Homo sapiens: one gene and its partners. The protein of the gene in region 3 purifies or fractionates together with the protein of the main gene of each other region. This does not show direct contact. Each region holds a gene or a part of one and is shown on either strand. Other genes may lie near its edges.

Evidence for each region.
Region 1: the proteins of PLK2 (region 3) and POF1B purify together in Homo sapiens (affinity purification with mass spectrometry; 3 studies listed by BioGRID and IntAct, with this or other methods). This does not show direct contact.
Region 2: the proteins of PLK2 (region 3) and SDR9C7 purify together in Homo sapiens (affinity purification with mass spectrometry; 3 studies listed by BioGRID and IntAct, with this or other methods). This does not show direct contact.
Region 4: the proteins of PLK2 (region 3) and SUGP1 purify together in Homo sapiens (affinity purification with mass spectrometry; 3 studies listed by BioGRID and IntAct, with this or other methods). This does not show direct contact.

What each region holds. Positions count from the first base shown.
Region 1 is NC_000023.11:85,278,589-85,286,124, forward strand, and holds part of POF1B (protein POF1B), read right to left. Parts: intron 3,730-7,536; coding exon 3,615-3,729; coding exon of another isoform or gene 3,591-3,614; exon of another isoform or gene 3,527-3,590; intron 839-3,526; coding exon 833-838; 3' UTR 1-832. UniProt on the Homo sapiens protein: Plays a key role in the organization of epithelial monolayers by regulating the actin cytoskeleton. May be involved in ovary development.
Region 2 is NC_000012.12:56,923,939-56,931,474, forward strand, and holds part of SDR9C7 (short-chain dehydrogenase/reductase family 9C member 7), read right to left. Parts: intron 6,547-7,536; coding exon 6,288-6,546; intron 5,616-6,287; coding exon 5,452-5,615; intron 113-5,451; coding exon 1-112. UniProt on the Homo sapiens protein: Plays a crucial role in the formation of the epidermal permeability barrier.
Region 3 is NC_000005.10:58,456,811-58,464,939, forward strand, and holds the start of PLK2 (serine/threonine-protein kinase PLK2), read right to left. Parts: upstream 3,277-8,129; 5' UTR 3,150-3,276; coding exon 2,880-3,149; intron 2,283-2,879; coding exon 2,175-2,282; intron 2,032-2,174; coding exon 1,915-2,031; intron 1,719-1,914; coding exon 1,589-1,718; intron 1,362-1,588; coding exon 1,274-1,361; intron 774-1,273; coding exon 678-773; intron 570-677; coding exon 371-569; intron 283-370; coding exon 135-282; intron 1-134.
Region 4 is NC_000019.10:19,275,218-19,282,730, forward strand, and holds the end of SUGP1 (SURP and G-patch domain-containing protein 1), read right to left. Parts: intron 5,075-7,513; coding exon 4,968-5,074; intron 4,174-4,967; coding exon 3,996-4,173; intron 3,580-3,995; coding exon 3,473-3,579; intron 2,663-3,472; coding exon 2,517-2,662; intron 1,860-2,516; coding exon 1,730-1,859; intron 1,458-1,729; coding exon 1,431-1,457; 3' UTR 816-1,430; downstream 1-815.

The DNA of each region.
Region 1 (7,536 bases), on a different chromosome or scaffold from region 3:
TTTATATCTATGTAATATTTCAATGATATGTTTGCATACCACTATGAAAAAACTTACCTTCCTTACACCTACTACTACCACATTGTGTTATATGTTTTTTAAGAAGTAGGTAGGCTCATTTGGGGAAGGTATGCTTTGAAAGAACAGATTTGCCAAGGGACTAATATGTACTTAGAACCAGAATAGCATACTGTATAATTTAGTGGACTTAGTTATTTCAAAAGATATTATTCCACTTCCCTGCTAAATGAAATTAATCATCACCTTTGACTTTCAAGAGGTGAAAATAGCGTGTAATAAAGCATATCTTTTAGTCATCAGGCCTACTGTGAAAAGCAAATACAGACTGTATATATTATATACTAGCTGTTATTTTTTGCTTCAATTGTATTTTATCTCTTTTGTTAAAAAAACATGATTTCATCTTGTAACTGAACTGCACATATAATATCAGAGAAAATCTTCTAATGGCATGACTTGTAAAATCTCTACCCCAACAAATTAGTTTGATATCTAGGAGTTACCTTATCTGAAACATAATGAGTTATGTTCTACAGTGTCTGCAATCAAACTTTAAACAATCAGGTCCCTCTTTCAGTTAGTATGTTGTTATACTGAATACATGAGTGTTATGGAAAAGATTTAGGTCTCATAAATGGGTGAAGAAATTGTCATCTACAGAACTAATTCATTCCATTAGATTTCTTGGGTAGCAGCATGGTTCCAAATTCTGATTGGCCTTTAGTGATGGAAAAATAACAAAGTACTAATGCAGAGACACACACACAAAAAAAAAACGGCTTTGAGTTGTAATACTTTAAAGTGGATCCATTCATGGCTAGAAAAGAAAAAAAAAGGTTATCTTACAACTGGTTCATAATTAAAGTCATTGTTACTATATGCAAAGTTATGGAAAATTATTTAAATTGGTATGTATAAAACCAAAGGACATGTATTGCACTTTTGTGGCACTCTTTTATATATATATATTCAATGAAACAATGATTTGTCTTTCTTACTTTACTCATGGTATGTTTCAAATGACTTTAAGCAAGAGTGAAGGACAATTAAGTAGATTTCCTTCTTAGTAATATTTAGAGTTTAAATATGTCCAATTGTCTCTTAATAAATATGGATTTTCATCTGTGAATGCATTTAAATATATTCTGACCTTGCTATCAGTATCTATAGATTCTTCAAATATCAATTTTGATTTTTACTGCTGCACATTTTTAATGGAGAGAGAAGTAGTGGCTACTATTCTGTAGAAACTTTATTTGGCAGGTCTTCATATTGCCACCTCTGGGATACATGTGGTTAGGGTTAGTGGCAGCAATTGCTTCTCAGTCTTAACTTTGGGCATCAAATTATCTTTGAGTGGCCAATTTTAAATTCTATGGGTTAATAATTAGTAGTAAGTAATTTTCAGCTAACTAATGACCTAACAAAAACAACATTTCAGAGTTTAAATGCAGTTATTTTTACTTTGGGATTACTAAACATTGGTTGTTTTCATTGATGATAACAACCATACTTAAAAGATTGATGGCTGGATTGTAGTTAAAGAAGGGCTTCAGCTCTAAAGAAACTTTTTGAATTTTTTTGTTGACTCAAATATTTGAGCTTGTTCAACCAAAAGATGTTTCTAGAAGTTATTTAACAGATGTTTAGATGTTTAATTTTATTAACTATACATCTGAAGCATAATTTTTAAATATTTTTCAAAAGGTTCTGCAGAATACTGGATTGATATTTGTATATTTGTCTATTGCTCACCACGGTACACTTAAGCATTTTAAGGCTTTTACTGAAGTACAATAAACATGTAGAAAGAAATGGACATATTATAAGTATTCAAATAAATGAATTTTCCCAAACCGAACATGCATATGTAACCATCTCCCAGATAAAGAAACAGAACATTATTAAGACCTTGAATCTCTCCTTATGCTTCCTTTTAATCAGTATCCATCCCACAAGGATAACCATTTCTTCATTTAATAGCCATAGATTTAGTTTTGCCTACTTTTATACCTCAGTAGTTTGACAGGTAGATAATTTTATCATAAGAAGTCAAAGGCTGTCATTTTCACAATGTTTTAAGTCAGATCTGTATGATTTGAGAACTAGAATCCTCAAACATTTCTCTGTTCATTTCACCAGAAGGATATCACACATTCCTATGATCCCTACCAGTGGCTTACTATTAGAATCTCTTGCACCAGTGTAGGAGTATATAATTAGGAAAAAAACCCAAGAGCATTCTGTTAGCAGAGTTTTTCAACCTCAACACTACTTATTAGGGGCTGGATAATTCTTTGTTATGGGAGACTGTCCTGCACATCGTAGTATGTTCAGAAGCATCCTAGTTCTCTAACCACTAGATGCCAATAACACCCACCCCTCTGGTTGTGAAAACCAAAAATGTCTCTAGACATTGCTAAATGTCCCGTAAGGTACAAAATTGTTGCTGTAGAGAGCAACTGTGCTAGGGAATATATAGTTGGCCCTTGGTATTCATGGGTTCCCCACCAATGATGGGTTGAAAATATTCAGGAAAAAAATCATTTCTGTACTGAACATGTACAGACTTTTTTTTTTTTTTACTGTTATTACCTCCTAAACAAGACGGTATGACACGTACTTAGAATTTACATTGAATTAGTTATTGTAAGCTAGAAATGACTTAAAGTATACAGTAAGATGTGCATAGGTTATATGCAAATATTATGCCGATAAGGGACTTGAGCATCTACAGATTTTGATATCTGTAGGGGATCCTGGAACCAATCTCTCATGGATATTGAGGGACAACTATATATCCCCTATTTGATGATCATTACTTTAAAAGTTAATAGAGCAATATGTAAAAGTTTTAGGGAAGTAGCTCTCAGTCCTTTATAAGAAGGTTTCAATAATCAGTCCCCTTAGCAATGGATTGGACCACTTAGAAAGATGCTAAGGTCCATGTCACCTGGCCATTTTGGAGGATGTTGTAGAAGGTAGAGTAAATATTGGAGTATATGATGTTTAAAGTACTCTTCAGCAACCTCACTATAACTGTGGGATTTAAGGCTGGAGGATGTTACAGTCTAGTGAGGAAGCTAGAAACATCTCTTCTTTCTAAATCCTAATATATATAATATATATATATATAAAATCCACAGGAATAAGTACCACATGCAAGATTGCAAGACAAATTCTATTGAAACATGCCTCTTCTCCATTTTCCAGTTGCCTTCATAATTGTCTATGATATTTGCTACCTGCTTTAGAAAAAGGGAAACTGTTTTGGAAAATTTTAATGGAACCCATTCAATAACTACCGAGCTAGGCAAGAAAATAAATAAAATTAGCATATCACTAATGTTAATCTTCTTCCTTTTGAGGGGCAAAAATTATATTTATATTATAGCTTAAATAATCAATTATATTGCCACATGTATGAATCTTTCCAAAATTTGTTAATTCCCACTGTATATCAATAATGGAAACAGAAAATCTCAAAAGAAAAAAATACTCAAAGTTTTTAGTTCATTTGATATTTTACCTCAATTTTAAAAGGCTGTACATATATCGTCAAAATAGGGCTAAAAATGCCCAAGTGAACTTACACAAGTGTATTTGTCTTCTGTTTTCTCAATCACAATAGTCTGTGTTTCACTACCTGGTGGTATATATTCGTAGTCATCATATAGGAGGCCTAGGATTGGATATTGTGTCCTGTACCTGTTGGCAAGAAAAGAGTTAGTTTACAGGCTGCATGAGAAAATAACTTTCATTCCTTTTTAGTCACTCCTAGTTTGATTGCCCTAATTAAGCCAATTCGGCTCTGAATGACTTTTTAACTGTTACTGAAAAAACAAAAAAATAAAAAAACCCTATTTCAATGGACAGAGATGTACAACCATTATTTTCAAGAAAATAAAATAGAGGGACTTCTGTTTCTGGCCATGATGGACGACTGGCAGCACAGGACAGTGACCCCAGAAAAGGGAAGCAAATGATATGGGCCCTACAAGTGCCTAGCTCACTGCCTGGAGAGATTTTCTTGGTCACGGGATAAGTAAAAGGAAGCTAAACAGATCCCAGCAGTCTCACCAAGATAAGGTGATAAAGTTTAGAGTAAATATAGGCAAAGGCACCCAGAGTTTGTGGGGCAGAGTATCAGACAGAAGAGAGCTACATAGATAGAGAGAGGTCAGGACAGCTGTAGAGGTTTTCCCAAAAGCCTTTGGGTGAAAACTGATCAGTGTGCCTGTATGTGAAGAAGCTACCAAGACTTAGGAAATAATGACTAGAAAGGAGCAGGCTGGCAATTTTGGGAGCTCTCATAGGGATGGTAATGTTTTGTGTTCCACTAACAAAACCAGAGTGAAAAGCTCTCCTGATATAGAGGCCATCAGATAGATACTGCAGAATATTGCCTTAGTAGTGGGATAAAATTAGCCTCAAAGTACAGGTTATTCTCAAAGAGTTTAAAAGCAAGGCTTGGATGTATTAAATTGTTTCCAAATAATTTCATCTCAGAACAAAACTCCAAATATTTTAAGTAATACCCTAGCGAAAATCTAAAACTCAACAATATAAAATCACAATTCATGGCATTCAACGAAAAATGAATAGTCATGCAATGGACGATACGACTAATAATGAAGAGAAATATAAATTAGTAGAAACAGACCAAGAGACAACACTGATAAAAAAATTAGTAGGTAAATGTGCATCTATTAGAAACATATAAAATATACAAGGTATATTCAAGAAGTTAGAGGAAAGCATGAACACAGGAGAGAAATAGATAATATAAAAAAGATCCACATTGGACTACTAAACATTAAAAAAATTAGGTGGAGTTAACAGCAGATTAGGCACTGCATTACAAAAAGACCGATAAATTTTAATACATCAAAATAAATAATTTAAAATAAAACATAAAAGAAAACGGAAAAAAATGAATGCAGCATGAAATAACTGTGGAAAATATCAAATGTCCTCATATATATATAATTAAAGTCCTGCAGGATTGGTGGTGGAAAAAAATAATTGACATAATGACCAAATTATTTCCAAGCATGATGTAAAGCTATAAACACACGTATCCAAGAAGCTCAGTGAACGTGAAAAAAAGAAACATGAAGAAAACTACAGAGAGGCACATCATTATCAAATTCTTGAAAACCAGTGAAAGAGAATCTTAAAAACAGCCTCAGAGAAGAAAGGACATTATTCAAAGAACAAAAATCATAAGATTAACAAAAAACTTCTCAGTCACAATGAAAGTCAGAAGACAGAAGAGCAATATTGTTAAAGTACTTTTTTAAAAAAAATGTAAAAAATCTCCTTAAGCTGATAAGCAACTTCAGCAAAGTCTCAGGATACAAAATCAATGTGCAAAAATCACAAGCATTCCTATACACCAATAACAGACAAACAGAGAGCCAAATCACGAGTGAACTCCCATTCACAATTGCTTCAAAGAGAATAAAATACCTAGGAATCCAACTTACAAGAGATGTGAAGGACCTCTTCAAGAACTACAAACAACTGCTCAAGGAAATAAAAGAGAACACAAACAAATGGAAGAACAGTCCATGCTCATGGGTAGGAAGAATCAATATCGTGAAAATGGCCATACTGCCCAAGGTAATTTATAGATTCAATGCCATCCCCATCAAGCTACCAATGACTTTTTTCACAGAATTGGAAAAAATTACTTTAAAGTTCATATGGAACCAAAAAAGAGCCCACATTACCAAGAAAAACCTAAGCCAAAAGAAAAAAGCCGGAGGCATCACGCTACCTGACTTCAAACTATACTACAATGCTACAGTAACCAAAACAGCATGGTACTGGTACCAAAACAGAAATATAGACCAATGGAACAGAACAGAGCCCTCAGAAATAATACCACACATCTACAATCACCTGATCTTTGACAAATCTGACAAAAACAATAAATGGGGAAAGGATTCCCTTTTTAATAAATGGTGCTGGGAAAACTGGCTAGCCATATGTAGAAAGCTGAAACTGGATCCCTTCCTTACACCTTATACAAAAATTAATTCAAGATGGATTAAAGACTTAAATGTTAGACCTAAAACCATAAAAACCCTAGAAGAAAACCTAGGCAATACCATTCAGGACATAGGCGTGGGCAAAGACTTCATGACTAAAACACCAAAAGCAATGGCAACAAAAGCCAAAATTGACAGATGGGATCTAATTAAACTCAAGAGCTTCTGCACAGCAAAAGAAACTACTATCAGAGTGAACAGGCAACCTACAGAATGGGAGAAAATTTTTACAATCTACCCATCTGACAAAGGGCTAATATACAGAATCTACAAAGAACTCAAACAAATTTACAAGAAAAAATCAAACATCCCCATCAAAAAGTGGGCAAAGGATATGAACAGACACTTCTCAAAAGAAGACATTTATGCAGCCAACAGACACATGAAAAAAATGCTCACCATCACTGGCCATCAGAGAAATGCAAATTAAAACCACAGTGATCTCAGGCCACTTAGAATGGCGATCATTAAAAAGTCAGGAAACAACAGGTGCTGGAGAGGATGTGGAGAAATAGGAATACTTTTACACCGTTGGCAGGACTGTAAACTAGTTCAGCCATTGTGGAAGACAGTGTGGCGATCCCTCAAGGATCTAGAACTAGAAATACCATTTGACCCAGCCATCCCATTACTGGGTATATACCCAACGGATTATAAATCATGCTGCTATAAAGACGTATGCACACGTATGTTTATTGTGGCACTATTCACAACAGCAAAGACTTGGAACCAACCCAAATGTCCATCAATGATAGACTGGATTAAGAAAATGTGGCACATATACACCATGGAATACTATGCAGCCATAAAAAAGGATGAGTTCACGTCCTTTGTAGGGACATGGATGAAGCTGGAAACCATAATTCTGAGCAAACTACCGCAAGGACAGAAAACCAAACACCACATGTTCTCACTCATAGGTGGGAATTGAACAATGAGAACACTTGGACACAGGTTGGGGAAGATCACACACTGGGGCCTGTCGTGGGGTGGGGGGAGGGGGAAGGGATAGCATTAGGAGATATACCTAATACAAATGATGAGTTAATGGGTGCAGCACACCAACATGGCACATGTATACATATGTAACAATCCTGCACATTGTGCACATGTACCCTAGAAGTTAAAGTATAATAAAAAATTTTTAAAAATGACCAGCTTACTCGTCTATACACAACAAAAATACTTTTGAATAATGAAGAATTGATAAAGACTGTTTTTAGACTTAAAAGGCCAAAAGAAGTCTTCACCAGAGAAGCATGATAAAAAATGTTAAAAGAAGTTTTTAAGGCAAAGGGAAAATGATACAAGATAGAAATTTGAATTTGATCAAAGTAATACATAGCACCAGAAAAGATAAATATGTAGGTAAATTTACAACATTGTTTTTCTTATTGTTAACATTTCTTTAAAAGATAGTTGGCTGTTGAAAACAAAAACAATAATGTATTTAGGGGCT
Region 2 (7,536 bases), on a different chromosome or scaffold from region 3:
GGGTTGTAGCGGATGCGAGGGCTCCGGGAAACAATAGCATGCTCCATGCTGTTGATGACATCTCTGACTCTGGGCTCTGCCACCTGCATTATGTTTTTTAACTTGTCAGTATCTGTTTGAGGGCAGAGAGGGGAAAAAGGCTCTGTTATTCTTCATAAAAGATGGCTTCTTCCGAATTCCATCCAAGTTCCCTTTCCATCAGATCCCTGATCTAACATTTCAGGCAGGTCCGCCACACCCTCCAGGTGGTCCCTTATACAAACACACATTTATAAGACTATTATAAATAATCTTAGCCTGGCCAACATGGTGAAACCCCATCTCTACTAAAAATATAAAAATCAGCTGGGCTTGGTGGCACATGCCTGTAATCCCAGCTACTCGGGAGGCTGAGGTATGGGAACCACTTGAACCCAGGAGGCTGAGGTTTCAGTAAGCCGAGGTCACACCACTGCACTCCAGCCTGGGAAACAGAATGACACGCTGTCTCAAAATAAATAAATAAATAAATAAATAAACAAATAGTCTTATTTATCTTTCTGAATTCAACAATTGTGCATTGAAGTCCTACTATTGCATTAGACTGGTGATGAGAAGAACTGTGCACATTCTCCTTATAACTGTGCCGCTTATTAGTTATATGACTTTGAGCTTAAACTTTTATTGTCTATAAAATGGAGATAATACTATCTTTCCTAAAGTTTGGGCATAGTGGCTCAGGCCTGTAATCCCAGTACTTTGGGATGCCAAGCCAGGCCAATCACCTGAGGTCAGGAGTTTGAGACCAGCCTGGCCAACATGGTGACACCTTGTCTCTACTAAAAATACAAAAATTAGGTGAGCGTGGTGGCGCGTGCCTATAATCGCAGCTACTCAGGAGGCTGAGGCATGACAATCACTTGAACTCAGGAGTGGGAGGTTGCAGTGACCCAAGATCGCGCCACTGCATTCCAGCCTGGGCAACAGAGTGAGACTCCATCTCAAAAAATATCTGTCCTGGAGAATAACAAAGATGATTAACAGCAGGGTAGACACTGGGGGAGTACAGAAGAGCAAACATGATGGGAAAACAGCCCTTTTTTTTTTCTTCTATGTACTTCCTAGAGTTCCCACATTTAAACAAAAACATGCAGGAGAAAATATTATTTAAAAATAGTAATACTGCCCCTACCTCAGTCATAAGGCCACTGTCACTCAAATAATCTAAGGCATAGACAAGCACCTCGTGGGGCCCTCACAAATGTGAGGAGTTGTTCTGTTTGCATTGACCCACAGGGGTGGAGATGGGGACAGAGCACCCAAATAGTACAAGTCTGCCAAAGTTCATGACATAAATGGGAGAAGGGCCACACCACACACCCACCAGGCCCTCATCTGCATCCTCACCCCAGGACAGGGGGATTCATGCTTCATTGAGAGCCCTGAGGACTCCAGGGAAAATGATGCTTCAAAGTCAGACTGCCCTGATAAGGTATGAAAACTTGAAAATGGAGAGGAAGCCAAAGCTGCCCTGACTTTGAGAATGGTCCAGGCAGGCAAGGAATTCACCCGCTTGGGGCCAGGACCCTTGTGGGTGGTTGGTGAGAATGGGGCAGCATCACTTCAGTCCCCTTCACCCCAGACTCCGAGAAACTCCATTTTCTGTTTCCTGGAAAGAAAACTGATGCAGGGGAAAAGCCAAACTATATTTTGGGATCTCAACAAGAGCCACACTAACTCAAAGCCAGACTGTCCATAAAGCAGTAATGTCTTAGGAAGCCACACCCTGACCTCTGACCGTAGAGCTGGCACAGAGGCCACCAGCAGCAGGGCTGAGGGTCGAAGGAATCGTTCAGGATGCCCAGGAGGCTCTCTCTGCCCCCTCGGCGCCAGGGAAAGCTTTGTGGGCTGAGGATGTGGAGCAAGCTGACATGGTGAGATGGGCTGGGGACTGGGTTCTGAGAGGTGGGGAGGGCTTGCACAGGCAGTGGGGTGGGAGAAGTTACCCCAGACATGGGGAATGGTATGAGGCACTTGCTTTCATTGTTTTCTCAAATAGATATTAGCTGCCATTCAGTGCTGGGCACCCTGCTAGGCATGGAGTAGGATGGGAGACGGAAGGACCCATCCAGCTTTGTCACTCTCCTTCACAGTGAGGAAGGACATAGGCTTTGGAGCTGGGCACCTGGGAAAATGTTTTTGTTATTGGGAGAATTAAGCAGGACAAAATCTATAAAGTATCAGGCCTGGTCCTAGGGGTTACAAGCCAGGGGCCTGTTTGGTCAGTCACAGCAACTGGCTGAGTTTGTACCCAGCGATGCTCTAGGACTACTCCTAAATATCTCTTCTGTCTGTCACATAGCCACCCCCCACCACCAGAACCATCAGGACTTACAACTTCATGTCTTTATCGTTCCTTCACTGGGTTTCTGCAGTAGTCCCCCAGGTGGACTTTTTATCCTTCCCACGGTGACACAAATCTGATCCTTCATTTCAGAGCCATTTACAAGGCTCTCTAATGCCTTTAGGATAAGAGCCATGCTCCCTACTATAGCAATCAAAGCATTTCATGATCTGACTCCTAATCTCTCCCCTCCTCAATCATCACCCACAGCACTCCTGCCAGACTATAATGGCAATGGCAAAGGTTTGTTCAGCTCTTACTGTAGCAGAGCTGAGTACTTTGCATTTCTGTTTAATTCTCCTAACAATCCATGAGAGAGGAATTGTACTTTATAAATGGATAAACAAGTTTGGAGAGCTATACAACATGATTAGAGGGACTGCTGGAATACAAGCCTGAATCTGCACTGCCTCCAAAAGCATACAATGCTATGTCAGGTCACTAAAACGTTGCTCACACCCTTCCTCTTGTGTGAAACATCCGCCATCTCTTTCCCTTTTGGTGTACTCCTATTCATCCTTCAAAACTCACTAAGGCATTAACTGTCACCTCTGTAAGGCTTCTGTGACAGCAGAATGAAGTCTGCATTGCTGCTTTGTTTTGTATGCATGTCCATTATAGCAAGATTCTTCATGTGGTGGTGTATTTGCTTTCACATCTTCCCTGCTAGTTTCCTGGAGAGTGTCTCATCTCTGAATCCCAATAAACACTGGGCAACTGAAGCAAAAATTCTAGTATAACCACTTGGGAAAACGTTTATCTAAATGTAGTTGACCACTGCCTGAAAATTTTCCTCTGAAATTATGGTGTGGACTACAGGTGAATTGGCCTAAGATATTTTATAAACCCAATCCTTACTATTCTTTAGTACAATACTAGCTTTTGGACAAGGTTTTCGGAGGAGTTTGCCTTTATACATATTCTTTCATGGACCACACTAAAGATGCTACAAGCTCTCTTCACCCTGAGTGCTTACTTAGAAAATGACTTTGTGAGGTTTCCAGACACTGGCTGAACCCATTTCACCCCAGCCTCCAAGCAGCTCCACAAATAATTTGAACTACTCTTTGCTAAGAATGATCACACAGAGGATAAATATTCTTCCCCACACATGCTAACATCTTCTCTCCTTGTTCCCAACAGCTGCAGATTTCCCTCTGGGGACCTATGCCTCCCCCACACTGTGTCCATTGGTCTGGGCAGAGCACACAGCCCAGCCTGAGCCAATCACACCTTCACATTCCCCTGGGCGCAGTGATTGGTTTAGGGTTGGGTGCATCTTGTGGTCCCCCATGACGCGGTCACCATAAGGTCCTCCAAGTCGGAGTGTACATTAGGACTTTTGGGAGAGGTACTGGAAATAACTCTCCTATTTTCCCAGCAGACCTCACCCTAGGTGGAGGTGAAGAGAGGCTGCAGCAATGTGGCTCCCACAGGGGAGAGAGCTTAGAGACTGGAGTCAGTGCAAAAGAAGCAGAGCCAAGAAATGGGTGGAACCAGGTCCTAGCAACATCATTTGCAGTCTGGGTCAGGTTGTACCTGAAGCTTATCTTGCTCAACTTTTTAGTCAGGTGAGGCAAGAAATTCCTTTTCTGCTTAAATAATTTGCATTGGATCTTCTGTCACTGAGTAAGTCCCAACTAGTGTAAATCCTTAGACATTTTCTTCTCACAGAATCCTAACATGTCTAGCACTAAAAGATGAATTTATCTAAGGAGTACTCCAAACATTTTTCCCTGAGACTTCCCTAAATCAATGAATGAAGACACCTCCATTCACCATGTTCTTCAAGCTGTAAAGCTAACACTCACCCTTGATAGCTTCCTCTCCCTCACCCCTTAATCCTCAGTGTGCTTTGATGCTCTAATTTATTCCGTATACCCCAGCTACCTCCCATTGCTTCCCACCTGCTGGTTTCTTTAAAGTTCCTCAAATGGAGTTTTCTGCCTCAGAGCCTTCCTGCAGAAAAAAAGTCCCTACGCATCCCCTCTTTCCCCTTCCCAGCAACACCTAACTCTTATTCCTCCTCAAAGTCAACTCAGAAGCTCTCCCCTTCACCATAGTCTGAATTGGGACCGCAACTTCCTGCTCCATTCTTCTTTCACAACCCTGTTTCTCCTCTGTAGCACTTATCCACATCTACCATAAACACATGTGTTTTGATTTATGTTTGTCTCCCCTACTGGGCCATAAGCTACAGGCAGTGAAGGGCAGGCATACTGCTGTGTCCGCTCCAGCTCTCCAGCCCCACACAGGCTTGGGACATGGCAGCCTTGCATGCTTTGTATTACTGATTCAAAACAAAAACAAAAAACAAAAATGCAATAAAGTGTGTATGTATTAAGTGAAAAAAATGGCTGACTTGGCTTTGTGCTCTGTTGACGTACGACATCCAGCAGACAACTTTCGTGGCAGAAAGTTTTGGGGCAGCAGGGTAAACAGCTGCCGTGTCCCACCTCTACCCTCCAAAAACACCTATGATTCACAGGAGACCCTCAGCTCAGGGAAAGAAAGAGAGTTGCCTAGAGACCCTCCCTTTTAAATCCCCATGTGCTCATTTTCTTCTTTATTAACAAGCACTCAGAATGTGCAAAGTACTTCACACATACTAACCCTCATAACAACCCCATGAGGGAGGCACTATCTTTAGCTCCATTTTGTAAATAAGAAAACTGAGGCATGGGAAAACTAGGTAATAGGTCCAAAGTCTCCTAGCTGGTAAGTAGTAGAGCCAGGATTTGAACCCAGGCAGTCCGGCTCCAGCAGCCATGCCCTTGATCTCTTTGCTGTATTTATCTCAGTGCATTTTCACCTGATTCCCCTGCATCATGATGCTGTGGGGGCAGGTGCCAGGAGTGGGCTGAATTGCCCTTAACTCCCCGGGCTGCTCCAGAAGTGATGATTCTGCCACTTGCTCTCTATTCTCAAACCCCAGCTGTGCCACTATGTGACCTTGGGTCCTGAACTCCTCTGCATTTTGTCTCACCATCTGTAAACGGAAAGCCAGCTAATGACCCCAAGACCCACTCGCCCCCCTCAGAGACCCCTCTCCTGCCCCAGGAACTTACAGATGCGGAAATAATCCTCTCCGTAGCTGTCCCGGGTCTCCTGAGGCAGCCTCTCCCAAAGCTTTCGCATGCGTGACTCCAGGTTCTCCTTGCCGAGAATGGCTGTCCGATAGTTCCCTGGCTCAATGATGCAGACTTTCACCCCAAAGTAGTAGAGCTCACGCCTGGGAAAGAAGAGTTGCAGTCAGTCTGGGCCCCAAGATGACAATCATCACGGAGAGTCACCTCTGGATGGGCTGGTCTTTCAGGAACCTAGAGATGCTTCTCTCACCCCTGTACTTGGCCCTGGCATTGCCTTTGTGCAAATAAGCCCTTCCTTAGGGACTCAGCCCTTTCCAAAACTGGCCCAACAGTCTCTGGGCAATTTGCATTAGGCACAACCAGCGGGAAGAAGTCAATAGAGAATCTAGGCCAAAGCCTTGCCTCCCACCAGGTCCCTCCCATTAGCAACCCCTCACTCAACACCCACACGGTGAATGGTGTGGATATACACAAGGCCTGCACGCTCCTCTAAGGACCTCCCAGAGGGGACCTGTGCCTCCAGGCCTGTCTGTCTGTTTGGGGGACTCTCCCTCCTCTCACAGGCCCAAACAGGGTTTCACTCACCCTGGTGCCGCTCAAGGGAAGGCCCACCTGATGCCTTGTATTTCCACCCTACCTCTTCTCCTCATCCCTGCTCTTGGTCCTTGGAGAAAGCACCTTGAGGTCTAACCTTCCTTCTGCTATTGTGTTAGCTTCCTGTCTGCGGAATTCCCCTGCCCACATGCTGTCACTCCCAACCCTCTCTAATCTCTGGGATTTTCACCCAGAATTGTTCAGTACCAGGGCCCAGTTACCTTATGCTGTCAGAGAAGGCCTCAACGCCAAACTTGGAGACGCAGTAGCCACCACCAATGACAGCCACACGACCACCAGAGCTGGACATGTTGACAACCCTGCCCCGGGCTCTCTTGACCATGGGCAGCATGTGAAGGGTCACTTCGATCAGTCCCACCAGGTTCACATTAATCACCTTCACAAAGTCATCCTTGGTCAGCCATTCGTTGGGACCACTGGGCAGGCCCACACCAGCATTGTTCACCAGGGCCCAGAGGCCTGGGGGTGAGATGAACCACACAGAAATCATCAGTGGGCCTGGGAAAGAACCAAGTTCTGCTCCCCACCGGCTCAGTGCCCTCAAGGATGGTTGAGCAGGTGCACAAGACATAACTCGGTCAGGCTATAACATAAAAGGAAGGTGTGTCTTTTACTAACTCGTTTTCCCTGAAGGGACACTTTTTCCTGATTCACATAAAGTCTGCCGGCTAGCTGGCGCTCTGTACTAGCTACAATCGAGGTGTTAGGTGACAGCATTTCAGCTATCAGCTTTGGGATAAGAGTTTCATTTTCATACCAATGAATTAATGTTTAGATCCCTTCCCCATCATACTTCTCCCTCTCTATTCACTTAAGTATAACCAACTGCATTTCACATACTACCAAAATCAATCCATTCATTCATTCATCTTCACACATTTATTCATGCATTTATCTAGTCTGTGACAATTACAGGGTGAAGGAGGCCAGGTGCAGTGACTCACACTTGTAATCACAACCCTTTGAGAGGCTGAGGTGGGAGGATCACTTGAGGCCAGGAGTTTGAGACCAGCCTGAGCAACAGAGTAAGACCCCTGTCTCTACAAAAAAAGAAAAAAAATTAGTCAGGCGTGGTGGTATGTGCCTGTAGTTCTAGCTACTTGGGAGGCTGAGGTGGGAGAATCACTTGAGCCCGGGTTACAGGTTACCTTGTTCGAGGTTACAGTGAGCTATAATGGTGCCATTGCACTCCAGCCTGGGTGACAGAGTGAGACTCTGTCTCTAAAAATAAAATGAAATAAAACGATATAAAATAAAATAAAGTAAAATACAGGGCAAAGGAGACATAAAATGAACAACACAGCATCTTATCCCTCAAGGAACTCACAAGCCTAGAAGGAAATAATAATATTTATAAATAAATATATAAAATATTTAAATAAAATAATTATGGAAAATGTGATGAGGACTATCCTTGAGATATTTCAATTAGGTTGGTACAAATGGAAA
Region 3 (8,129 bases):
TGCTATAAATATCAACATTTAAGAATACGCAAATATGGCCAAGTTATGCTAATATAAAATTCTCTTTTAACTAATTTACCAAATTTAAATATAATATTGGGTACGAAAAAGGAAAAGAAGTCTTGTTAACTTACTATGTGTGTCAATATATCTTGCTTTGTCTTTTTTGCCACCAAAAAGAGCAGCAGCTGCTTTCTTAAAGAAATTCTTAGCTGGGCTTGATAAGTGGAAATCTGGAACTGTATGACAACAGCTAGAAGACAGTCTGTCCGGAGTGAAGCCCTGTGGAATATTAGAAAAAGCCTTCAGTAACCTGTCAGGTAACTGGGATCAATACCAGGTAATTAAAAAAAAAAGATAGTGCACCAACCTGCAAAAAAAAGTCATGTCGAATGATGTCATCCAAACTGGGACGATCCTCTGGGTTTTTGGACAACATACTAGCAATTAAGTGCTTGGCAGGAGCCAGCAATGAGGACGGCATTGTATACCTTGCTTCCCTTATGCACCTATAAGTTTCTTTGAGATTTGTAGTTTCAAATGGGGGCCTCCCTAGTAACATTGTATACCTGTGTGCAAAGAAACACATCTTTAGCAATGGTCATAAAGCAACTCTTTTCAAGTGTTAAAATCTAAATCCGAATTTGCTTTTTAATTATTCTGCTGCATTTACTTACATTACACAGCCCAGGGCCCAAATGTCTGATTCACAGCCATGTCCTTGTTTGTTGAGGACTTCAGGAGAGAGATAATTTGGGGTACCACATATCGTTCTGGAAAGACAAAATATTGAGATCGTGTTAGGAACTATTCCACTACTTAAACTTGGTTCTCTTGACATGACTTGATGGGAGACAAAATCTTAAACAAAATCTTAAAATCTATACTGAATTTCTATTTGGAAACATTTGACTTTTGGCATCTGAAAATTCAATTGAGATCTGACCAAATGAGTTTTGGTAATTTTTAAAAATGCACACACGTTGTTTTAGCCCACATGCAAAGTGTTGTTAACCAACTAAAGCCAGGGACGTCGTGGCATTTTATACATTTTAAGCCAAGAAAAGACTTCATTGACTGCTTTCATAATCAATTTAGAGGCACAGGGTGCTCTGTCTAGTCCATAGTGGGCATTTAATAAGTATTTCTTTAAATTAACATTGCTATGATTTATAGATTTTATTACCGGACCTCTGAAACATTAAATGCAAAATAATGAAGGCATATTTGGTCTCCACAAAAGTCTACTAGGATGCATCTTTCTGACTCTTACCTCCTTCTGTGTTCCAAGGGTTCTAGCCTGGCTGCCAGACCGAAGTCCCCAACTTTTAGTTCCATGGCTTCATTAATAAAAAAGTTCCCTAGACGATAAACAAAACAAAATGTGAATCCCTTTGAAAATGCGTTCTAACCAAGTACACACACATCCACTTTGGAGCCAGGCAGCCAATTGTTATATGAAAGTCGCCCATTCAAAAGCAAGATTGCAGACACGAGATCCCAATTAAGAACATTAATATGTAAAAAAAAACAGAGAGAGAAAAAAGAACTCTAACACAAAACTCAGCTTTTGGCGTCAATGACTTACCTAGTTTGAGATCTCTGTGCAAGATTTCTTGTTCATGAAGGTATTTCAGTCCAGACACAATCTGCCTGAGGTAGTATCGAACTTCTGGCTCTGTCAACACCTTTCTTGCTTTCAAAATATGAGCCATTGACTAAGAAGAGGAGAAGGAAAAAAGAGAATCTGTCAAAACAGTTATCAAAATCACTGGTTTCCCTTTGCAGGATGAGCAATGAAAGTTAACTTTGCAGTGTAAGTGCTGCCACAGCTAAAATCCCAGATAAAATACTCTTTGAATACCATGTTAATTCGGGGTAAGCAAATGTTCTCAAATAGGAGTTGACACTTACCCTTCTACTGCAGTATTCCAAGAGAATGTAAATGTTTTCTTTGTCCTCGAAGTAGTGGTAAAACTGCACTACATGCTTATGATGAAGAATTCTGTGAAGCTCTATTTCTTTGTCAATCTAAATGAAAAAGCAAGGTAAGGCTTATTAGCTTCCAGTCACCTCGGAAAAGCCAGTGATTACACATGCAGAAGACATTTTCCTAACAGGGAAGGGCCATCCTTGCACACAAAGAAAATACTTTACTCAAGAGTCATACGCACCTTTTCCCTTTGATGAGGTTTAGCTACTCTGCTGTGAGGAATAATTTTTGCGGCGTAGACTTTGTTATTTGTCAAATCTGTCATCTCGTAACATTTTGCAAAGCCACCCTGAAAGGAAACAAAGCCGAGACGGAATTGAGGATGGCACAAAAATGGACGGCAGATATTTTAAATAAATAAATAAATGGGAAGAAAGAAAAGCAAAAAAAAAAAAATTGAGGAATGGAGGAGGGTGGACAGAGGGAGGCATTCGACTTCGTTAAAGCTCCCTCATGAAGAGAAATGCATTGCTGGAAACAGCAAGTTCAAACAGTTTCTCTTCTTCTTTTATAAAGGGGAGCTTTATGGAGGGAGTTGGAACGGGGAGACATGAAAAATAATCTCTGATGAGACTTGTCAGGAAAATTCCCTGGGAGCAGATAGAGGGAGAGAGGTCTGATGTAGAAAGCCCTCGCTTCCAGACTCAAGATGCATTTCTCTGGGCTGCGGGAGACACACAGTTCTGAGGCTAAGAATGCAAAGCCGATCCCCAGCGCTGCCGGCGCACAAAAGCCAGAGGGCAGGTGAGGAGCCCACCTCGCGCTGGGATCGGACCCCCGAAAAACCCGGAAGCGGCGGGCGAGGGACCCCGCGGGCTTGCCCGGCTTGGGGTCGCCCGGACAGACCTCCCGCCCGCCCGGCAGCCCGGCGCCCTCCGCTTGTCACCTTTCCCAGCACTTTGCCCCGGCAGTAGCGCTTCCCAGTCGTGGGGTCGACGATAATCCGCGAGATCTCCGGCCCCGAGTGCGAATGGTGGTGATGGTGGTGAGGGGCCGCCGGGGGCACTTGCGCCTGGGACTGAGGTGGCTGCGATTCCTCGGGGGGCTGCGGCGGCCGCTTCTTCTTCGAGTCCGCTCCGCAACCCTTGCCCAGCGCCTGCTCGCACATTTTGGTGCTGGCGGCTGGCTGGTAGGTGATAGTCCGCAAAAGCTCCATGGTCGCCTTGCCGCCCCGCACTGCCCGCTGCCACCCCCTAGGCGCGGTCACACGTCCGAGCCGGCCGTGGTCCTCGCACCCTTGCCTCTGGTGCCGACTAGCACCCAACACCCCGGTCCACTTGTGCGAGTGAGAGCGCTCGGCGAAGTCTTATATACGGGGAGGCGGGAAGGGGGCGGAGACTCGATACGCGACATCACGTCACGGCCTATGCCCCGCCCCACGGCCGGCCGAGCGCGCGTGGCCGGGAAGCAAGTCTTGTCCCGCCACCCGGGTCTCGCTTCCCAGCGGAGCCGCGCGCCTCAAACGCCGGCCGCCGAGATCTCTTGCGGCCGCGGGAAGGCCTTCAGAGCCGTCCGTGGGCCCCGCTGTCCCGTTCTTCGAAGGCTCCGAGCCTCAGCGTACAAAACAGAATCGCGAGGGCCGACGCCTGGCCTCACCCCCGCCCCAGCCGCCTGGTGGCAGGGCAGTGCCGTGACCCGAGCGAGTCGGGCGCGGGTGTAGACGCAGTCCCTCCCCCGCACAGCCCTTCCCGGCCGCCCGGGGCCTCCTGTGTCAAGGTATCAGGGTGCCCGGAGCCCGCCGCACGGGCAGGCGAGGCCTCCTCCGGCCGTATGACAGGGCTCGTCTGCAGCTGCCCCGCAGTGCCTGCCCGCGCTGTGACGAGCTCGCTGGTGTCTAGCTGGGGCAGTGCCGAGAGGCCGTGGGGGTGAAAGGCCGGGATTCGTGGAGCCGGGCATTCGAGCCCATCGCGCTAGGGCAGACACGGGCCCGCAGCCGGGATCCCGGGCCGATCGGCCAACCGTGCCAGGATCCCACTCGAGGCCCGTCTGGCCCCCGCCCATGCCCCTAGAGCGAGCCTCTGTCTGAGGTCGGCCCCTGAACCTTGCAGAGCGAGGTCGGCGTCCTGGCAAGGCGTCCTCCGCCCGTAGCCCGAAGATTGGAAAGCAAGGGCGCCATCTTGTGGAATGTTCCGGAATGCCGTTAGGTGTCGAAGTGGGCAGCGGTTGACAACCGTGGGCCTTTGACAGTTACTAGTACTAAACATCGATGCCGATTGTGAGTTTCCAATCAGAGTCATCTATGACTTCTTCCGAATGCATCTGTTGAGATGGCTCATGAGCTGCCCTGGTTCCTGGAGAGTCAATCTGAGACTTTCTGGGGTAGGGAGATTGGTAGGATGAAGAGAGGAGCGTAGGCCAGTGAGTGCAAACACAGCTTAGTTTCCCATTTCCAGATTTTGCTGTGCAGTTTGACTAATCTAGGAACACGTTTTTTTGTTTGTTTTTCTTGTTCTAATTACGATAGAGTAACATTTATTGAGGACTGTGCAGTATTTTTAAATGCCTTATTTCATCCTACAACAATTCTGAGAGAAATATTGTAAGGAAGGAAAAATAATTTTCCACCTTTCAAAGTTTTGGCCTGGGTCGCTGTAACCAGACAGATTAACAAGAAAACAAAGAAGCTTATTAACATATACGTCTCATATATACATGGGAGATAACCAGGAAAATTAGAGATGGTTTAAAATCGGGCTTAAATACTATCTTTAGCTAAACCAAAAGAAAAGAGTGGGGCAGGCAAGTTAAGGAATCATGACCAGGAAATGTACGGTAAACAGGAGTGGGGTTTCTTATTTCTTCATTGATAAGTTTTTCATGATTTAGAGTCATTCTTCCTGGTACAGAGGAGACACTTTTACAAATGGAGTTTTGTGGGGTTTTTTTGTTTTTTGTTTTTGTTGTTTTTTTTTTTAGTGAATGTACGTTTCCCTTACGAAAGGGTAATATGCCATTTTTAGAGCATTTCCTGGGTCTGCTGGTTCTCAAAATAATTATCTTAAAATAATCTTTATCCCAGGGCCATATTTGGGGTGGCATATTCTCATCTCCTACATTATTATTCCCATTTTATAGATGAGGCTTGGAGAACTTAGGTAATTATTGTATATTTTTACTAGATCATCGAGGTTAGGTTAATTAGCAGCACACTTGAATCTTTTTACCTATGTTAACAGGATATGGTAAATAGTTTTTTGAAGCTAAATTCCAGAGAAATTTAGAATACCAGATTATTGAATCCCTGGAAGGTACATACAAAAAGTTGCTGCAGTCCACTGTCAAATTTAGGTATGTGTGGTATCAACATTAATCGAACATTTACAAAAATACTGTGTCTCAAATACTTCCAGCATAATGTGGAAAAGAGGCTTATTGCCATTAGAGAGGAGAAAGGGAAAGGCTTTGCCATTAGCGAGGAGAAAGGGAAAGTCTTTGCTGTCACTTCCGTTTTTGATTCTTTAAAGAGTGCAGGGCAAGTCCAGGCATGTTTCTCATAAGTGACAATAGACTTTAACCCCAAGATTGTCAGGGATGGAATAAGGGGTGGGGCTTAGGGGTGGAAATTCAGAATTACGTAATTATCCTCTTTATTCATAAGCCCAGGGGTGACCTTTGCTTCCCAGATTTGTGCAAACCTACTCTCTAAGATGTAGAAGGCTTGCAGGTTTAGAAAATATTACTAGAATTTATCAAAGCTAGTTTACACACCATGTCTTTATGGTTGATAATAAACTGTATATGTATACATATGTGTGTATGTGTATGTGTATTCATTTGTGGCCTAAGATAAAAAACTGAAGAATAGATTGTCATGATTTTTTTTTAAATGTCAATTTCTTCTTTGATTAGCATACACTATGGTATGTATCTTTACCAAATGGACTTCAGTATTTGATAAACTGTTGAACATTCCATGTGAAATTCAGGTCTGTCTGCCACAACATGGAGGCATTTAATAAAATATTAACGCTGTGTAAATCTTATGTTGTCTTCTTTCCGACTGAGAACATGATTTTTTTGGGGTTGTGGTGCCATCATGTGGACAGAACCAAAATTGTAGTCTATAGAACAAAAAAGGAAATAAATGCGCTTTCTATTAAGTAGACTAATTACTAAATATCATGGAGTCAATTTGGTAACCAGTAGGAAGGAAAAAATGGATCCATGCTTCATATCTGGCTTATTTTCAAGCAAATGAAAGTTTGAAATACGTGAAATTTTAAGACAATATGAAAGAATTCTTTCATAGCCTGAATGTGGTAGAACTTTCAACTATTTACAAAATCTAGAATCCCTAAAAAAAAAAAAAAAGCAAGATTCATTAATGTAACTATATAGAAACAAAACCCTTTCATTGATTTAAAATAACAAAACACCACAAATAAAGTCAAAGGATAAATAACACTGGAAAAATTATTTTCAACTCATCACAGAGAAAGAGCTTATCTTCCTGTTATATAAAAACTCCTACAATTGGATAAAATACCAATTATCCAACAGAAAACAAATGGTTCTTACATTTGCTCAATTTCACTCTTCAGAAGAGAAATTGAAATGAAAGATATACTGAGGCACCCTTTCCTACAAAATTGGCAAAACCCTCAAAAGTTGCCGTGAACATGCTCAACTGCTGAAGTGTTGAGGAAGCAGCACTCCATATATTGCTGTTGGGAATGGAAATTGATATAATTTCAGTGAAAAGTAATTTGGCCAAATCTATCAAATTTAGAAATGAATGTATTCTCTTACTTAGGAATTTATCCTATGGATATAATCTCATATATAAAATGATGCATGACACATCAACAAATGATAAAAACCCTGGCCAAATTAAGCCCAATTCTTACATTTGTCAATAAGTTTTTATTTAAAAGAACCGTGCCCATTTGCCGGGATCTAATTAAACTAAAGAGCTTCTGCACAGCAAAAGAAACTATCGTCAGAGTGAACAGGCAGCCTACAGAATGGGAGAAAATTTTTGCAATCTATCCATCTTACAAAGGGCTAATATCCATCATCTACAAAGAACTTAAACAAATTTACAAGAAAAAAAACAACCCCATCAGAAAGTGGGCAAATGATATGAACAGACACTTCTCAAAAGAAAACATTTATGCTATCAACAAACATGAAGAAAAGCTCATCATCACTGGTCATTAGAGAAATGCAAATCAAAACCACAGTGAGATACATCTCACGCCAGTTAAAATGGCGATCATTGAGAAGTCAGGAAACAACGAATGCTGGAGAGGATGTGGAGAAATAGGAACGCTTTTACATTGTTGGTGGGAGTGTAAATTAGTTCAATTGTGGAAGACAGTGTGGCCATTCCTCAAGGATCTAGAACCAGAAATACCATTTGACCCAGCAATTCCATTACTGAGTGTATACCCAAAGGATTATAAATCATTCTACTATAATGACACATGCACATGTATGTTTATTGCAGCACTGTTCACAGTAGCAAAGACTTGGAGCTGACCCAAATGCCCATGAATGATAGATTGGATAAAGAAAATGTGGCACATATACACCATGGAATACTGTGCAGCCATAAAAAAGGATAAGTTGATGTTCTTTGCAGGGACATGGATGAAGCTGGAAACCATCATTCTCAGCAAACTAACACAGGAACAGAAAACCAAACACTGCATGTTCTCATTCATAAGTGGGCATTAAACAATGAGAACATATGGACACAAGGAGGGGAACATCACACACTGGGGCCTATCAGGAGGTGGGGGCCTAGAGGAGGGATAGCATTAGGAGAAATACCTAATGTAGATGACGGGTTGATGGATTCAGCAAACCACCAAGGCACGTGTATACCTATGTAACAAACCTGCACATTCTGCACATGTATCCCAGAACTTAAAGTATAATAAAAAAATTTTTTTTAAAAAGACTACACATTGGGTACAGTGTACACTGCTTGAGTGATGGGTACAGCGAAATCTCAGAAATCACCACTAAAGGACTTAATGTAACCAAATACCACTTGTTCACCAAAAACCTATTAAAAGAAAAAATAATAATTTTCAAAAAACAACCATGCCCATTTGCTTATGTAGATATATTGTCTATGGCTGCTTTCATGCTACAATGGCAGAGTTCAGCTGTGACAGAGACCAAATGG
Region 4 (7,513 bases), on a different chromosome or scaffold from region 3:
GGTATATCACCCCAGCCTTGGCTCTGCCACTGCATCTGGCACCTCCCTGGTCTCAGACCCCACTGAGACACTCTGCAGACCGCCCCACCACGGCTCCCTGGTTCCTCTCAGTAGCAGCCTCAGACCTCATCCCCAGCAGCCTGGCTGACTGGAGTAGATCTTGTCCACCTGGTCCCCACACTTGGCACCTAGTGTTTGCTGAATGGCTGTGTGAACACAAGCTGGCCCAGGAGCCCGACTCCATGCCAAGCATGTGAATAGGGAGCCCCTGGTGCCTGCAGGGGCTGGGCAGCACCCACTGGGTGTGTGTGGAGGGGGTGGGGGCAGATGGAAATGCAAATTCCCAGGGCCCTGCCCAACCAGCTGACTCGGCAGCTGCAGCTTAACAAGATCCCCAGGGTGACTTAGGCACAAATGTGGGGCTCTGGCCCTGGGGCAGATGTGGGGGTCTTGGCACACACTGTGGCCTGGGCTACCCTCCTGCCTCAAAACCTCCGGCTCTGAGGCCCTTCCTTCTAGGAGCTGCCTGACATGTTGGCATGGCACATCCATGCATCCATGCGGCTGTCCCCTAACGACACAAGCCCCAGGGACTCGTGTGCCTACCACACTGGTGGGACCTGAAGGGCCACAGCCAACACCTGTGTGCTGGGCCGTGCCAGCACCACCTGCCAGGAGAGCACATGGGTGTGCCCAGAAGCCACCTGCCCCCACAGGTCTGAGGGAAGGTGGGGCCCTGCCTGGAGACCCCTCCCCAACCTCCCTCTGCAGCACAGTGCTAGGCTCGGAGGTTCCTGACATTCCTTTAGCCCAGGTGTGGCCAAGTCTCCAGCTTTATTATTATTATTATTATTTGAGACAGAGTCTTGCTCTCTTGCCCAGGCTGGAGTGCAAAGGCGCAATCTTGGCTCACTGCAACCGCTTCCCAGGTTCAAGCCATTCTCCTGCCTCTGCCTCCCGAGTAGCTGAGACGACAGGTGTGCACCACCATGCCCAGCTAATTTTATATTTTTAGTAGAGACAGGATTTCACCATGTTGGCCAGGCTGGTCTTAAACTCCTGACCTCCAGTGATCCGCCCGCCTTGGCCTCTCAAAGTGCTGGGATGACAGGGGTGAGACACTGCACCTGGCCTTCCAGCTTTACTATGCTGAAAACAACTTTCTTCCTCCCCTCCAGTGCAACCCAGGCTGAGCGGGGATGGAGACTCCACAGGCCAATAAGGAGAGCCCCGAGACAGCATCTTGCATCCCGCTGCTAACAGGAGGGGCTTCCTGCAACAGGACCAGGCATCTGTGGTGGATGAGCACTGGGACTTTATTACACGGCACGGCACTCGTGACAACGGAAGGGGTGGGCAGAAATGCAGGCCGGAACATTCCACAGTCCAGGGACGGTTGGTCATTCAGAAAGTATGTATTTCCAGAACACTCAGTAGTAAGGCCGTCTGGGATTGTTCTGTGGAAGGCAAAACAGATAACAGGAGGAGGGGATTAGCACTAAAGACAGCAGTTCCTCCTGTCTGGAACCTTCCGGAGGCAGCTGAGCCCGCACCCTTGAGGTGGCAGGGCAGGCTTGGGGGACGGGTGGGGGCTTGAATGCAGGTGGGTGGTAGGGGGCTCGCTGGTGAGACCCAGCCTGGCTGGACTGAGGAAGGAAGGGAGCCTTCTGTTCCTACCACCACCCTCTCCTGTCGACTGAGCAAAGGCAGCCCAGGAGGACATGCGTACCAGGGGGTTGGGCCGGAAGCGGTAGGCCAGCATCATCCTCTTGCGGAACGCCTCATACTCGTCGTCCTCCTTGGAGAGCTCCGCCGGCCGGTCAATGCCGAAGCCAGCGCCGTCCACTGTGGTGGTGCCCCTACAGGGAGAAGAGGATGTGAGCAGGGACCTGGGGCCAGAACTCTGGCCGGGGGGCCGGGCACAGCTGGGCTCTCAACAGCACCTCCCGCGGGTGCAGGGCTGGGCTGGGACATATCTGCACAGAGAGAAGCTTGAACCTGAATGGTCAAGGAGGGGAGACCCCCGGGGCGGGCGGGGGGGGGGGGCCTAGGCCCCAGGGTCCCACACAGGAAGGAGGAGCCCACAGTGCAAGTTGTCGCAGCTCTTGGGATGGCAGGATGGTTACTCAAGGACAGCCTTGAAGGGGGCACTCGGGGCCAGGGTCACACCTGGGAGAGCTCCTGCCCATCTCTGGGAGTGGTTTCGCACTCATGGGGAATTCAAATAAGGCCCTTCACAAGGCAGACAAGGCCTGACCCATCTGTACCCTCACCCACCCCATCTGGCCTGGAGATACTCATGAGGGGACGGAAGGAGGCCCTGGGACTGGGGAGGACCCAGCCCGTATGGCCTCCTGCACTGCAGGCCTGTGCCTGACAAGGGGTGTGCAGTGGGGTGCTGTGATCATTTTGCCACAAGGGAAAAGCGATGACATAAAGGGGTGGGAATGGGGAGGCGGCAGGGGACCCACAGACCCCAAGTTCATGGCCATGCCCTCCCACAAGGCCACACTCACTTGTTCACTGGGTTCTTGATGCCCTGGCCCTCTGAGCCCAGCCCCTCGCCCTCCTTCCAGCCCATCTTCATCAGCATCTGGTAGCCGATGTTCTCCACAGTCAGCTTGAACTCCTTGTACTCTGAGTAGTCAGGCTCACGGCCCTCCTGCAAGGTGAGGAGGTAGCTGTCACCCACCAGGGCTGGGGCTGTGGTGGCCCCCAAATCCAACCTTCTGCCTTTGGTTTCAATCAGTGCTGGGACCAGTGGCCCATCTGCCTCCCTCTCACCAGATCAGACTCCTTGAGAACAAACAGACCAAGCTCCTCCTGCTTCTCAGGGTCCCCGGGGCCTTAGTGCCAAACTGTGCACCCCTGGTGGCCAAGTCAAAAGGGCAAGAGGATGAGTTACACAGGCCTTATCCACCTGAGATAAAGCAATGGTTCACTGGCAAAGAGAAGCCCCGTGTTCATGTCCTGAGAGCAATTTGTTGTACAAGGTACTAATAAGAGATGGACAACGAGGTTACCACCTCACTAATGAGGTTATCAGGCCCTGAACAGTTTTATAAAAAAACCTCAAAAAGATAATGGGGGACGTGCCATGTCAGCCCTCTCTCCTCAGGAGCCCAACAGCAGCAGAGGCAGAATGTTAAACTCTGGTTCTGGAGAGGCCAGTCCGTGGGGACTTCTGCCGGAGAAACACTTTGCCTGTAAACTGCACTTAATTGGCTCCACTGGAAGCAAAATTTCCCCCGCAGCCCCAGGAAATGTTTCTGAGGCAGCAGCTGAGCTGCTGTTTGCTAATTCCCTACACAGACGGCGCCTGTCATTAACAGATGCCTCCTGCAGCGAAAAGGCCTGGCTCCTGCTGTGATCGAGAGGGTAGCCAGGCTACTTTGGGCACCTGCAGGGTGAGGCAGCTACAGGAGGGGCTGGCATGTGGCAGAGGCTGGAGCTAGGGCCCCTCCTGGCTCACCTTCAGGGCCTTGAAGGTCTCCATAAACTTTTCCAGCTCGTCTGGAGGCAGGAAGTCTCCGATGAAGTGCTTGCCCCGGCCCATCTTTGTCAGCTGCTCGGCCCATTCTGCTCAGAGAAGCAGAAAGGTGAGAAGAGGGAGAAGCAGGAAGGAGGGGAGCAGGCCTGGTGGCTCCCAGGGCACAGGTATGAGGCTCAGTGGGAGCCTGGGGCCCCCAGGGAAGGAGGCGGCTAGGCCATGACCCCAGCCCGAGCCTCTGCCTGGTGAGGCAGCCCAGCATTTAGTGAACCCTGTGCAGCTCTCCACCCTCACGATGTCAGGACTGCTCCTTTTCACCACGGAGAAAACTAGGCCCCAGAGAGACTGAGCCTCTCACTCCAGGCCTCACAGCCACAGGAAGCAGGCTGGGGGCTAAACCAGGATGGCAGCTCAAGACCACGTGTGGCGCATCCAGGTAACCTTCCAGGGCAGGTGAGGGGGGCCATGCCCAGCCCAGCCCGGCCCACCCCGCTGCCCCACATACCCCTGGTCTTATCCATCTCCATGCGCCGCAGCTGGTGCTCCCAGGTGCCCAGCTCGCTGTCCACCTCCTCATCACTGTCATAGCCGTGCTGGTGCTGTTGGACTGCCTTCTCCCACAGCAGCTGCATGTCCTGCATGGCCCGCTTGTGCTGCATGATCATGTCGTACATCTGCTGCATCTGCAGGGCACACTCGCCAGTGAGCCAGGGCACGGTGCTGTGGCCTGCCGGAGCCCCGCTCCTGCTCCCCGCCTCCAGTGCTGGGCATCCCCCGCCGGAACGTGGCTCATCTGGACCCCTGGGCAGGACTGGAGCAAGGACTCTAGCAAGTACTGAGTACTGCCCTGGGTTCTCTAAATCCCAGTGTGGAGCACGGAGGACCTCTTGGCCACTGAATGAGGGTGACTCAGGGTCCTGACCCCTGGGAGGGTCAAGGGTGATGTGACGGGGCTGCGGGCCTGGAGGAGGGGTCACAGCGAGCTGACCCCAGGGACTGACAGGCAAGCGCCTGCAGCTCCTCAGGGGAGCCAACACCGACACTGCCCAACTACAACTGGGAGGCCTCAAGTCCCTCAGGGTGCCCTGTGCTGACCAGGATGGTCCTGCACTAGACACGACAGAGGACTGCGGACAAAGAACATCAACGTAGACTCTCCCATGGGAACCAGCCCTGGAGCGCGGCGAGAAGCAGCCACAAAGCTCAGGCCAGGATCACAGACCACCGGGGCCGCCCCAAGGGCCAGTGGTCTCCCAGGCAGGCTGAGAGGCCACTCAGGTGCAGTGGGGGGTGGCATGCCACCTACTGGGGCAGGGGGACCTGCCTGCCTGGAAGCCTCCCCGCTGGCCATGGGTTCCACCTGAACACAGGAGCTTGGCGAAGCACATGAACCCCTGTGACCGCTGCACCCGGGGGTAGAGGACAACACTCTATGGGCGCCGACCATGTCCCCGTCCCCTTGTCCCCGCAGTCTTACCTCCTGCTGCTCCTTCAGCTGCTTCTTCTGGGCGTCTGAAAGCTCTGTGACGCCCACTAGACCCACAGGCTTCCCCTTCTCATAGCCGAGCCCCTTGAGGTCCTGAACTGGAAACCAAAGACACAGGGTAGTCAGAGCCTGACAGGTGCACCCCGATCTCGCTCCTGCGCTGGGGTGTGCTGTGAGTCTCACACCTTCATGACACTCCAGGCACACGGGGACCTCATATCATTACTGTCAGTGCCACGTGGTACGTGACGGCCTCGGGGTCCCGCTGTGTGCTGCCACGTGCACCCCCGCATCTTACGTCCTTGTGACCTCTCCAGCCAGGCTCTACGCACCACCACATTGCAGATGTGGACACCAAGAATCAGAGGTTCCGGGACTCACTCAGGGTCACACAGCTAACGAGTGACAGGGCAGGAATTTGCAGAGCCAGAGACAAGAGAGCTGAGACGGCATGTGGGCAGCATGCATGGGCGCACGCACAAACGGGCTCTCAGAAGGCAGCTCCGTTGCTAACAGACACCAGGTGTAAGCGCGCACAGATTCAGAGTCTGGCGTAAGACTCAGCTGTGCGACTCCCTTAGCTCCTTCAGGGGAGGCAGCCAACCATCCTCAGAGCAGCTGACATTTAATTTGGCATCAGCTGTGGAACTTGGCAGGCTCCAGTAACACTGACACATAGAAAGATGCTGCAACAGCCCCATCCGGGTGGCAGAAACCACCACCCCTCGGGCGGTGCGGTGCTTCCCGGGGGAGAAGGTGAGCAAAGGGGTGCAGCGGGCCCTCTGGGAAGGGAAAAGATTTGGGTCCTTCCAGCTCATCAACACTCGGGCTTTGCCGCTAAGAATGGCCCACATTTGCACTCTTAGTCCTTCCTTGGTTTACAGGGCACTGAGGGATGTGGGGGAGCCCTGTTGGGGAGACGCAGGAGCCGAAGTCTGAGCATCTGGTTGATTGCCTTAGAGCATGCCCACAGTCCCTTTCCCCCAGGCCCACTCCACCACATGAGCGGGCGGGTGAGGGCTGCCATGCTCCCTGAGGACATGGATCAGTGGGACTTGAACCTGGGCCTCAGACTTTGGAGCCTGTTCTGTCCAACTAAGCCACAGGGCGACTTCTTCACCTGCTGGGTGTCTCAGAGCTGGGGTGTGTGCGCATTGAAGCACCCGGATCTAAGCACTAGGGTTCGGCACTTGAGTGACAAACCAATCCTAGGTACCCTCCACCCTGGCTGCAGTTGCTGGCTACAGCCCTGGTAAGCATAAGAATCTTCATTCAGTAGCTTTTCTCCTTGACCTAGAATCTCTGAGGCCCTTGGGGCCAGGGAGGCACCGAGAAAGCAATCATCCCTGAATTGGACGAGCAGGTCCAAGAGGCTGGCCACCCGACCTGGGAAGGCTGTCGCCTTCCCTTTTGGGGTCCTGTCCTCATCTTGCAAACACAGGTGATGGCGCCACACAACAGGGCACGTCGGACTCCTCCATGCACCTGTGTGTTGAGCGCCAGTGAAGGTGGAGTGAGGGGGTGATGTTTCTGCTCCACAGTGCAGGCTGCATAGCTGCATAGTGGGGCACCATATGACATGAGATAGTGGGTGTCAGTCACTGATTATCATCTGCAGAATGCAATGACAAGAGACCACCCCCCAACCCTTGTAGGTTTGGTAAGAAAATGAGAGACCAGGCCATAGGCTGGCCCTCCCCGAAATTGCTGCTAAGAAGGGAGAGGTGAAAAGGTGATTGTGTAAAACTGTGGTAATTATTGTGCTTATCGTTGTCTGTCTCTTGAACTTTCTTTCATTTTTCCCGAGATGGAGTCTTGCTCTGTCGCTCAGGCTGGAGTGCAGTGGTGCGATCTTGGCTCACTGCAACCTCCGCCTCCCAGGATCAAGCAATTCTCCTGCCTCAGCCTCCCAAGTAGCTGGGACTACAGGCACGTGGCACCACATCCAGCTAATTTTTGTATTTTTAGTAGAGACGGAGTTTCACCATATTAGTCAGGCTGGTCTTGAACTCCTGACCTCAGGCGATCTGCCCACCTTGGCCTCCCAAAGTGCTGGGATTACAGGCGTGAGCCACCACACCCAGCCTCCTGAACTTTCTGTGACAAGAAAGAATCCAAGTACTGGCCGGGAGTGGTGGCTCATGCCTGTAATCCCAGCACTTTGGGAGACTGAGGTGGGAGGATAGCTTGAGCCCAGGAGTTTGAGACTAGCCTAGGCAACATAGTAAGACCCCATCTCTATTTATGTTAAAAAAAAAAAAAAAGAGACTCAATTCAGACCCAAAGACACAAATACAGTCAGGAATCACTTCATGGAGGGGACCATTCTGGAAATGCATCATTAGGCGCCGTTACCAATGTGTGAGCATCACAGACTGTACCTCCACAAACCTAGATGCTACCGCCTACTGCACACCTACACTAGATATTACAGTTGACCTTGAACTACATGGGTATGAACTATACAGGTCCACTTAATATGCTGATTTCTTTCAATGAATATATTGAAAAAATTTTTGGAGATTTGCAACAATTCG